Linked DNA regions of Homo sapiens: region 1 is linked to region 2. Evidence: fine-mapped expression QTL. A gene starts in region 2. The other region holds a variant in brackets. All regions are shown on one strand. Distances are between the middles of the regions. Region 1 has its middle 130 kb from the start of LINC02101. Region 2 holds the start of PLK2 (polo like kinase 2).

What was found. PIP is the estimated chance that this variant, and not a neighbour inherited with it, causes the effect.
Region 1: its variant is fine-mapped to the expression of PLK2 in whole blood (TOPMed, PIP 0.97).

Annotation. Positions count from the first base shown.
Region 1 is chr5:58,253,029-58,258,410 of GRCh38, forward strand. No RefSeq gene overlaps it. Among named protein-coding and RNA genes, the nearest start is that of LINC02101, 130 kb to the left of the region's middle. The variant C/T (reference allele first, on the strand shown) is at 3,025.
Region 2 is chr5:58,457,885-58,463,266 of GRCh38, forward strand. PLK2 (polo like kinase 2) reads right to left here and starts at 2,202. Exons shown (of 14, transcript NM_006622.4): 1 at 1,806-2,202; 2 at 1,101-1,208; 3 at 841-957; 4 at 515-644; 5 at 200-287. The coding sequence starts at 2,075. RefSeq lists silencers at 198-492, 2,520-2,699.

The sequences.
Region 1 (5,382 bases), 200 kb before region 2:
GGCTCATTATCCCAAGTAGGTGCAAAGGCGATGGTATGGGAGTTCTATAAGGATAAGATCTATGTTTTGCCTATTGTATTTTGAGTTCAAGTGAGTAGTGGTTTTCTAATTGGGGTAATCACGTTTCTGAAAGAGGTTACATTTGACTTTAGAGTGGAAGGATAGTTAGCATTACAATAAATGAAAATGAAAGAGAGGATGGGCAAGAGGACAGAGGGAATGGCTTGAGCAATGTCCCGAAGAAGAAAAGCCAGCCAGTCTTCCAGACATGATGAGTATCCTGGTTGGCTTAGAATGTAGGAAAGCAGTAAGTAGAAGAAATTAAAAGGTCGAGATAAACTTAAGGATGCTTTGAATAACATGCTGAGGAATTTGAATAGAAGTCTCATAGGCAATGAGGAAGCTTCAGGTTTCCTCAAGATATCACTAAGACTGTCTTTAAGAACATTGATCTGGAAACAGTGTACAGGATTTACTAGAGACGGTCAAGATGTAAACCTCTTGCTATTTGGAAAATAAAGTTGTTCCATGGCCGTTGCAGGGAATAAATGAGGTAACCCACGGAGAAAACAAGAAAAATGTCTAGGTAATGGGGAAACAGCTAAGTTAATTACTAAACAGGCAGTGAACTACATCTGCATAATTTACCGGCTTTATCAATAAAATTGGAAGAAGAAATTGAAAAACAACAAAGTTGGGGTGGCATAAGATTGGAATACAGAATAACAGACATGAAGAGCATCAAAAGAGCATGGAAATTTGGGATCTGTTGTTAATGAGGATGGCACTGAGAAGGCTGGCCACCTCTGGAACTATTCTCTCTGTCTTGTCTTTTTCCATCATTTTCACCCTTTTCCCCAAATTCACAGATGCACTGGCAGTTTGTGTAGTGATTAGGAGAGTGAGCTTTGGAATCAATCCTACATGGATTTGAATCCCAGCTCTGTCAATTAGTCACTAGCTAATTTACCTTGGGCAAGTTACTTTACCTCTCTAATCCTCAGTTGAATGATTAGTAATATGAAAGTAACACAAATAATCTACACCATAGAATTATGAGCCTTGCATGAGTAAATGCATATAACACACTTATAAGAGTGTCTGCCATGTTCTGAGCACCCAGTTGTTATTTTTATTATTATCCTTAGCTAAACCAAGCTACCATTTTTTCTCTCCTGGCCATCCCTTATCAAAATCTTGAAAGTAGTCTTATCTTATTCCTCTAGTGATTGGCAGTTAGCCAATCCTCAAAACACAGCTCTAGCTCAAAACTTACTGGGACTATTGTTTTAAAGGTAGCCAAGGAGCATAGAGAAACTAAATGCAGTGACCTGTGCTTAGTCCTCAACCTCTTTGATCTCTCTCCTTTGAGCACTTCCATATCAGAGTTCCTCTCTCTATGACATACTGTCTAGGTTCTACTCTTATCTCCCTGGCTTTTACTTCAGTTCTTTCTGACTTCTCTTCCAGGTGAATAAATGTGGGTGTTACCCAAGATCTTTCCTTGACTCTTCTTCTTTCTCCATGATCATGCCCAGATGGGTTTTTGGTGTGGATGTCCTTTCTGTTTGTTAGTTTTCCTTCTAACAGACAGGACCCTCAGCTGCAGGTCTGTTGGAGTTTGCTAGAGGTCCACTCCAGACCCTGTTTGCCTGGGTATCAGCAGCGGTGTTTGTAGAACAGCGGTTTTTCGTGAACCGCGAATGCTGCTGTCTGATCGTTCCTCTGGAAGTTTTGTCTCAGAGGAGTACCCGGCCCCGTGAAGTGTCAGTCTGCCCCTACTGGGGGGTGCCTCCCAGTTAGGCTGCTCAGGGGTCAGGGACCCACTTGAGAAGGCAGTCTGCCCGTTCTCAGATCTCCAGCTGCGTGCTGGGAGAACCACTGCTCTCTTCAAAGCTGTCAGACAGGGACCTTCTCCAAAAGTTTAAACAAGTCTTCGTAGAACTATCTCCAAAATCTGCATCTGTAGTCTTGACTGACTTTCTTAACTCCAATACTACATGTCAACACCCCAACTAGATATTCTATATCACTATAAACTTGGCAAGTTCAAATCAAACCCAATTTGCAACCAATACACGCCTTCAGCCGTTTCATTTTCATTAGCAAAACTCTTTTAACTAGACAGCAAGAGGGGAAACCTTGTGGCTAATCTCATTAACTCCATCACATTTTTTTTCCTCCCTCACTCCAGTGTAAATAGTTGTCAGATCATATGAGGTGAACCTCTTCAGTGCCTCTCACATCCTTTCCAAAAGTTACCCTTGTAGCTCAGGTCTTGATTACCCCTTGTCTTGATTACTGTTTGTTATAAACCAAGTTCTCTGCCTCTATCACCTGACTTTCCCAAACCCTCCTAACAACTTTTGCCACATTACTTTCCCAAATGCAGTTGTGGAAAGGGGTCCTTGCTTCTTCAAAAATTCTAACTTCTTGAGGCTTAAATTATACTTCATAAACAACTCTATCATTAGGAGAATAGTCAGACATATTAACTATATATATGCTTGTCTTGCCTCCTCTACTAAAATTGAGCTAATTAAAATCAGATGTCATGCCATAGCATTGTATCCACTCATATTACAGGCAGTGCCTAAACACAAAATGCGTGTAATAAGTATGTAATGAACAGATTTTCTATTGAATAAGTGTATTCCCCTCCTTAAAAATCTACAATATGATTCCACATTTCTTACCAAGTAAGATAAAAACTTAACTGTAATGCTTTCTGAAACTTAGCACTAATCTACCTCTCCTACCTCTCCAGTGTTTTCTGTTTTTGTACCATGGTGTCCTATGAAACTGAAATACTAGTGTGCTTCACATTTCTTACCTTTCCTATTCTCCCCATGATATCCCTCAGTTTGGAATATCCTATTCTCTTTCCTTCCATAATTAAATCTTACTTAACTAAAAGCCTTCTTCTCATTTAAGCCTTCACTAACCTTTCCTTCTTTAAAGTAATTTCTTTTTCATCTGAAATTTCTTATGACTTAGCCCTCCATTCTGGTACTAAATGTATTC[C/T]ACATAAAAAGTGGCTACTTCTGTACTCATCTTGCCTATTTGGCTGTGAACTTACTGAGTACAAGGACTATGTCTGACTCATCTTGTATCTCTATTGTACTGAGAACAAGGTCTGGACCATTGAATACACTCAATTCATATCATGATGTTCCGGCTAAATAGAGCCACGGGAATCTAATACACATGGCCTCCTGTCCCACACACAACTCCTGGAAGTCAGGAAAGCCAGTCATGCAACCTGAGTGCATGACATAACCTTTCAGGACATCATTTTACCACCTGCAAAGAAGGTAAGATTTTGGAGAATATTTTAGGAACTGAGTCCACATAAAGCATTTATTTTGGGGTTCACTTATGCTAAATAATCAATAAATGTTAGATATTATTATCATTATTTTCTACAAAAGAGTGTCCTATTCACTCACTCTTCTAATCCATTCTTGCTAACCCTCCAGATTATTTATTCCAGAATAGTGTTGTGGTCTAGCAAGTCCCTACTTCAATTTCCTTTAACAACCCACTAGTGCTCAGTGAAGAAAATCTCAAACTCCAACCTCCTGCTCCTCCCCAAGAACAGGCCAGAAACTGAAACACTAATTTAACCTGTTTGCCTGTGGAAGAGCTGCTGGCCACTGCAGTTTATCTCCTTTCTCTTCCTCTCATGACCTACGGCAGTGCAACCACCATCTAGGTGTCTAGCTCAATATACAATGTGAGGTGTGGGGAATGGATAAAGGAAAGGCAAAGCCCCTTGAAGTCCAGGTTACCAGACTTTTCTGTTGAGACATGGAGCTATCTCAGCAATCAAAAGGAAAAAGGTAAAATGTATTATATGTATTTGTCAAGATTACCCAGCATCCAATATTGGTAATAGATATGACTGAAAAAAAAATGCTAATGGGCCTAAAACATCCACATCAAATTTCCATTGAGATGTACCTCATTCACAAGATAAAAAGAAATACACTTTTGGCTAAATACCAAGTCCAAGATTTTTGTAAAATAGTATGAAGTGTTTTAAAAAGCTCTGAAAGAAGCATCAACTTCTATCTAAGGTGGGAAGTCCTATTATTCATTTCCTGCCAGAATTTAAAAAAAAATCCTTAAATTTAATTTAAATTTAAAGAAAAAGTTTAAGGTCATCTCAACATCTGACTTCTTTGTAAGTCAGGTAAACAGAGAAGAAGAAGTCAAAAGAAGGAGGCATAATACTTTTTGCATATCATACTGATATGTCTTGTTTTGTACTTATAGTCAGCCATTTCAAAGAAGGTTCCTATTTAATATGTTTGAAATTTTCTCAAAGACACTGCATTAATAATTTCTCATTAAGGCTAGTGATATATTATTTAAGAACAGCATTGAGAGAGATGTAAAAAATTTAAACATCATTATAAGCAAACCGGCCAACACACATGCACACACCAATTTAAAATGTCCTTTAGTTTCTTCTTAAAGTAAATGAAAAGGCACATACACTATTTTCTAAGAAACTTTAGTCTATAATATATTTTTCTTCCACCAGGAATGTCTTTGTCCCATTACCCCAAGTAAGATTCCACCCTTTCTTCGTAATCTGCTTCAGATGTCACCTCCTTTATTGAGACTTTCCTGGTTCTCCCCAACCATAAACTATCTCCTTCCTCTGAGCCCCTATGGGGCTTGACCAATTTCGAGTCTGCAGTGGCCCGGGGTCTGCTGAATGACTTTCACAGGCCATTGGAACTTTTTGCCTTATCAGCCTCTTCATAATAAAATATTAAAATGATATTTTATAACTGATTGGTATGAACATAAATGAAATCTAGGCTGATTTTTTTTTATTATACATTCATTATTATTATGATACTTAATTTTTTCTTATTTAAAAAAATTAAAAGGAAACATTTTATGGGCTCCTAAATGCATCATGGTACTAGGCCTTCCATCCCCGCCTAATGGGTAACTTGGCCCCATCACTTTCACACCAGACTTGTGTTGTAATTATTTATGCATGTGCTATCTCCCCTTCTAGGAAAAGAGCTTTAGGTTAGAAGCCTGAAAACTCTTTATAGCAACTATCTGAAATAAGTTTATTGAATGATATACAACCTTCCAGGGTCTTTAGAGAAAGAACACTCAGGAATTTACTTAGTTCTGCATTTACTGAGGCAGGGTGGCTACCACTCTTTGGTATGACTAATTATGATTCCTACTTTTTTCCAGTGAGAAAGCTACATTATTATTGTTAGATTTAAATGTTCCTATTTTTAATGAAGTACTAAGGGAACAAGTTAGAAACAAACTAGTAATCAAGAACCCTGGAGACTTGTTTCCATTTTCAAAGTTTCCTTTGTTGATTAATACTTTGTTTTTAGA
Region 2 (5,382 bases):
TGACTGCTTTCATAATCAATTTAGAGGCACAGGGTGCTCTGTCTAGTCCATAGTGGGCATTTAATAAGTATTTCTTTAAATTAACATTGCTATGATTTATAGATTTTATTACCGGACCTCTGAAACATTAAATGCAAAATAATGAAGGCATATTTGGTCTCCACAAAAGTCTACTAGGATGCATCTTTCTGACTCTTACCTCCTTCTGTGTTCCAAGGGTTCTAGCCTGGCTGCCAGACCGAAGTCCCCAACTTTTAGTTCCATGGCTTCATTAATAAAAAAGTTCCCTAGACGATAAACAAAACAAAATGTGAATCCCTTTGAAAATGCGTTCTAACCAAGTACACACACATCCACTTTGGAGCCAGGCAGCCAATTGTTATATGAAAGTCGCCCATTCAAAAGCAAGATTGCAGACACGAGATCCCAATTAAGAACATTAATATGTAAAAAAAAACAGAGAGAGAAAAAAGAACTCTAACACAAAACTCAGCTTTTGGCGTCAATGACTTACCTAGTTTGAGATCTCTGTGCAAGATTTCTTGTTCATGAAGGTATTTCAGTCCAGACACAATCTGCCTGAGGTAGTATCGAACTTCTGGCTCTGTCAACACCTTTCTTGCTTTCAAAATATGAGCCATTGACTAAGAAGAGGAGAAGGAAAAAAGAGAATCTGTCAAAACAGTTATCAAAATCACTGGTTTCCCTTTGCAGGATGAGCAATGAAAGTTAACTTTGCAGTGTAAGTGCTGCCACAGCTAAAATCCCAGATAAAATACTCTTTGAATACCATGTTAATTCGGGGTAAGCAAATGTTCTCAAATAGGAGTTGACACTTACCCTTCTACTGCAGTATTCCAAGAGAATGTAAATGTTTTCTTTGTCCTCGAAGTAGTGGTAAAACTGCACTACATGCTTATGATGAAGAATTCTGTGAAGCTCTATTTCTTTGTCAATCTAAATGAAAAAGCAAGGTAAGGCTTATTAGCTTCCAGTCACCTCGGAAAAGCCAGTGATTACACATGCAGAAGACATTTTCCTAACAGGGAAGGGCCATCCTTGCACACAAAGAAAATACTTTACTCAAGAGTCATACGCACCTTTTCCCTTTGATGAGGTTTAGCTACTCTGCTGTGAGGAATAATTTTTGCGGCGTAGACTTTGTTATTTGTCAAATCTGTCATCTCGTAACATTTTGCAAAGCCACCCTGAAAGGAAACAAAGCCGAGACGGAATTGAGGATGGCACAAAAATGGACGGCAGATATTTTAAATAAATAAATAAATGGGAAGAAAGAAAAGCAAAAAAAAAAAAATTGAGGAATGGAGGAGGGTGGACAGAGGGAGGCATTCGACTTCGTTAAAGCTCCCTCATGAAGAGAAATGCATTGCTGGAAACAGCAAGTTCAAACAGTTTCTCTTCTTCTTTTATAAAGGGGAGCTTTATGGAGGGAGTTGGAACGGGGAGACATGAAAAATAATCTCTGATGAGACTTGTCAGGAAAATTCCCTGGGAGCAGATAGAGGGAGAGAGGTCTGATGTAGAAAGCCCTCGCTTCCAGACTCAAGATGCATTTCTCTGGGCTGCGGGAGACACACAGTTCTGAGGCTAAGAATGCAAAGCCGATCCCCAGCGCTGCCGGCGCACAAAAGCCAGAGGGCAGGTGAGGAGCCCACCTCGCGCTGGGATCGGACCCCCGAAAAACCCGGAAGCGGCGGGCGAGGGACCCCGCGGGCTTGCCCGGCTTGGGGTCGCCCGGACAGACCTCCCGCCCGCCCGGCAGCCCGGCGCCCTCCGCTTGTCACCTTTCCCAGCACTTTGCCCCGGCAGTAGCGCTTCCCAGTCGTGGGGTCGACGATAATCCGCGAGATCTCCGGCCCCGAGTGCGAATGGTGGTGATGGTGGTGAGGGGCCGCCGGGGGCACTTGCGCCTGGGACTGAGGTGGCTGCGATTCCTCGGGGGGCTGCGGCGGCCGCTTCTTCTTCGAGTCCGCTCCGCAACCCTTGCCCAGCGCCTGCTCGCACATTTTGGTGCTGGCGGCTGGCTGGTAGGTGATAGTCCGCAAAAGCTCCATGGTCGCCTTGCCGCCCCGCACTGCCCGCTGCCACCCCCTAGGCGCGGTCACACGTCCGAGCCGGCCGTGGTCCTCGCACCCTTGCCTCTGGTGCCGACTAGCACCCAACACCCCGGTCCACTTGTGCGAGTGAGAGCGCTCGGCGAAGTCTTATATACGGGGAGGCGGGAAGGGGGCGGAGACTCGATACGCGACATCACGTCACGGCCTATGCCCCGCCCCACGGCCGGCCGAGCGCGCGTGGCCGGGAAGCAAGTCTTGTCCCGCCACCCGGGTCTCGCTTCCCAGCGGAGCCGCGCGCCTCAAACGCCGGCCGCCGAGATCTCTTGCGGCCGCGGGAAGGCCTTCAGAGCCGTCCGTGGGCCCCGCTGTCCCGTTCTTCGAAGGCTCCGAGCCTCAGCGTACAAAACAGAATCGCGAGGGCCGACGCCTGGCCTCACCCCCGCCCCAGCCGCCTGGTGGCAGGGCAGTGCCGTGACCCGAGCGAGTCGGGCGCGGGTGTAGACGCAGTCCCTCCCCCGCACAGCCCTTCCCGGCCGCCCGGGGCCTCCTGTGTCAAGGTATCAGGGTGCCCGGAGCCCGCCGCACGGGCAGGCGAGGCCTCCTCCGGCCGTATGACAGGGCTCGTCTGCAGCTGCCCCGCAGTGCCTGCCCGCGCTGTGACGAGCTCGCTGGTGTCTAGCTGGGGCAGTGCCGAGAGGCCGTGGGGGTGAAAGGCCGGGATTCGTGGAGCCGGGCATTCGAGCCCATCGCGCTAGGGCAGACACGGGCCCGCAGCCGGGATCCCGGGCCGATCGGCCAACCGTGCCAGGATCCCACTCGAGGCCCGTCTGGCCCCCGCCCATGCCCCTAGAGCGAGCCTCTGTCTGAGGTCGGCCCCTGAACCTTGCAGAGCGAGGTCGGCGTCCTGGCAAGGCGTCCTCCGCCCGTAGCCCGAAGATTGGAAAGCAAGGGCGCCATCTTGTGGAATGTTCCGGAATGCCGTTAGGTGTCGAAGTGGGCAGCGGTTGACAACCGTGGGCCTTTGACAGTTACTAGTACTAAACATCGATGCCGATTGTGAGTTTCCAATCAGAGTCATCTATGACTTCTTCCGAATGCATCTGTTGAGATGGCTCATGAGCTGCCCTGGTTCCTGGAGAGTCAATCTGAGACTTTCTGGGGTAGGGAGATTGGTAGGATGAAGAGAGGAGCGTAGGCCAGTGAGTGCAAACACAGCTTAGTTTCCCATTTCCAGATTTTGCTGTGCAGTTTGACTAATCTAGGAACACGTTTTTTTGTTTGTTTTTCTTGTTCTAATTACGATAGAGTAACATTTATTGAGGACTGTGCAGTATTTTTAAATGCCTTATTTCATCCTACAACAATTCTGAGAGAAATATTGTAAGGAAGGAAAAATAATTTTCCACCTTTCAAAGTTTTGGCCTGGGTCGCTGTAACCAGACAGATTAACAAGAAAACAAAGAAGCTTATTAACATATACGTCTCATATATACATGGGAGATAACCAGGAAAATTAGAGATGGTTTAAAATCGGGCTTAAATACTATCTTTAGCTAAACCAAAAGAAAAGAGTGGGGCAGGCAAGTTAAGGAATCATGACCAGGAAATGTACGGTAAACAGGAGTGGGGTTTCTTATTTCTTCATTGATAAGTTTTTCATGATTTAGAGTCATTCTTCCTGGTACAGAGGAGACACTTTTACAAATGGAGTTTTGTGGGGTTTTTTTGTTTTTTGTTTTTGTTGTTTTTTTTTTTAGTGAATGTACGTTTCCCTTACGAAAGGGTAATATGCCATTTTTAGAGCATTTCCTGGGTCTGCTGGTTCTCAAAATAATTATCTTAAAATAATCTTTATCCCAGGGCCATATTTGGGGTGGCATATTCTCATCTCCTACATTATTATTCCCATTTTATAGATGAGGCTTGGAGAACTTAGGTAATTATTGTATATTTTTACTAGATCATCGAGGTTAGGTTAATTAGCAGCACACTTGAATCTTTTTACCTATGTTAACAGGATATGGTAAATAGTTTTTTGAAGCTAAATTCCAGAGAAATTTAGAATACCAGATTATTGAATCCCTGGAAGGTACATACAAAAAGTTGCTGCAGTCCACTGTCAAATTTAGGTATGTGTGGTATCAACATTAATCGAACATTTACAAAAATACTGTGTCTCAAATACTTCCAGCATAATGTGGAAAAGAGGCTTATTGCCATTAGAGAGGAGAAAGGGAAAGGCTTTGCCATTAGCGAGGAGAAAGGGAAAGTCTTTGCTGTCACTTCCGTTTTTGATTCTTTAAAGAGTGCAGGGCAAGTCCAGGCATGTTTCTCATAAGTGACAATAGACTTTAACCCCAAGATTGTCAGGGATGGAATAAGGGGTGGGGCTTAGGGGTGGAAATTCAGAATTACGTAATTATCCTCTTTATTCATAAGCCCAGGGGTGACCTTTGCTTCCCAGATTTGTGCAAACCTACTCTCTAAGATGTAGAAGGCTTGCAGGTTTAGAAAATATTACTAGAATTTATCAAAGCTAGTTTACACACCATGTCTTTATGGTTGATAATAAACTGTATATGTATACATATGTGTGTATGTGTATGTGTATTCATTTGTGGCCTAAGATAAAAAACTGAAGAATAGATTGTCATGATTTTTTTTTAAATGTCAATTTCTTCTTTGATTAGCATACACTATGGTATGTATCTTTACCAAATGGACTTCAGTATTTGATAAACTGTTGAACATTCCATGTGAAATTCAGGTCTGTCTGCCACAACATGGAGGCATTTAATAAAATATTAACGCTGTGTAAATCTTATGTTGTCTTCTTTCCGACTGAGAACATGATTTTTTTGGGGTTGTGGTGCCATCATGTGGACAGAACCAAAATTGTAGTCTATAGAACAAAAAAGGAAATAAATGCGCTTTCTATTAAGTAGACTAATTACTAAATATCATGGAGTCAATTTGGTAACCAGTAGGAAGGAAAAAATGGATCCATGCTTCATATCTGGCTTATTTTCAAGCAAATGAAAGTTTGAAATACGTGAAATTTTAAGACAATATGAAAGAATTCTTTCATAGCCTGAATGTGGTAGAACTTTCAACTATTTACAAAATCTAGAATCCCTAAAAAAAAAAAAAAAGCAAGATTCATTAATGTAACTATATAGAAACAAAACCCTTTCATTGATTTAAAATAACAAAACACCACAAATAAAGTCAAAGGATAAATAACACTGGAAAAATTATTTTCAACTCATCACAGAGAAAGAGCTTATCTTCCTGTTATATAAAA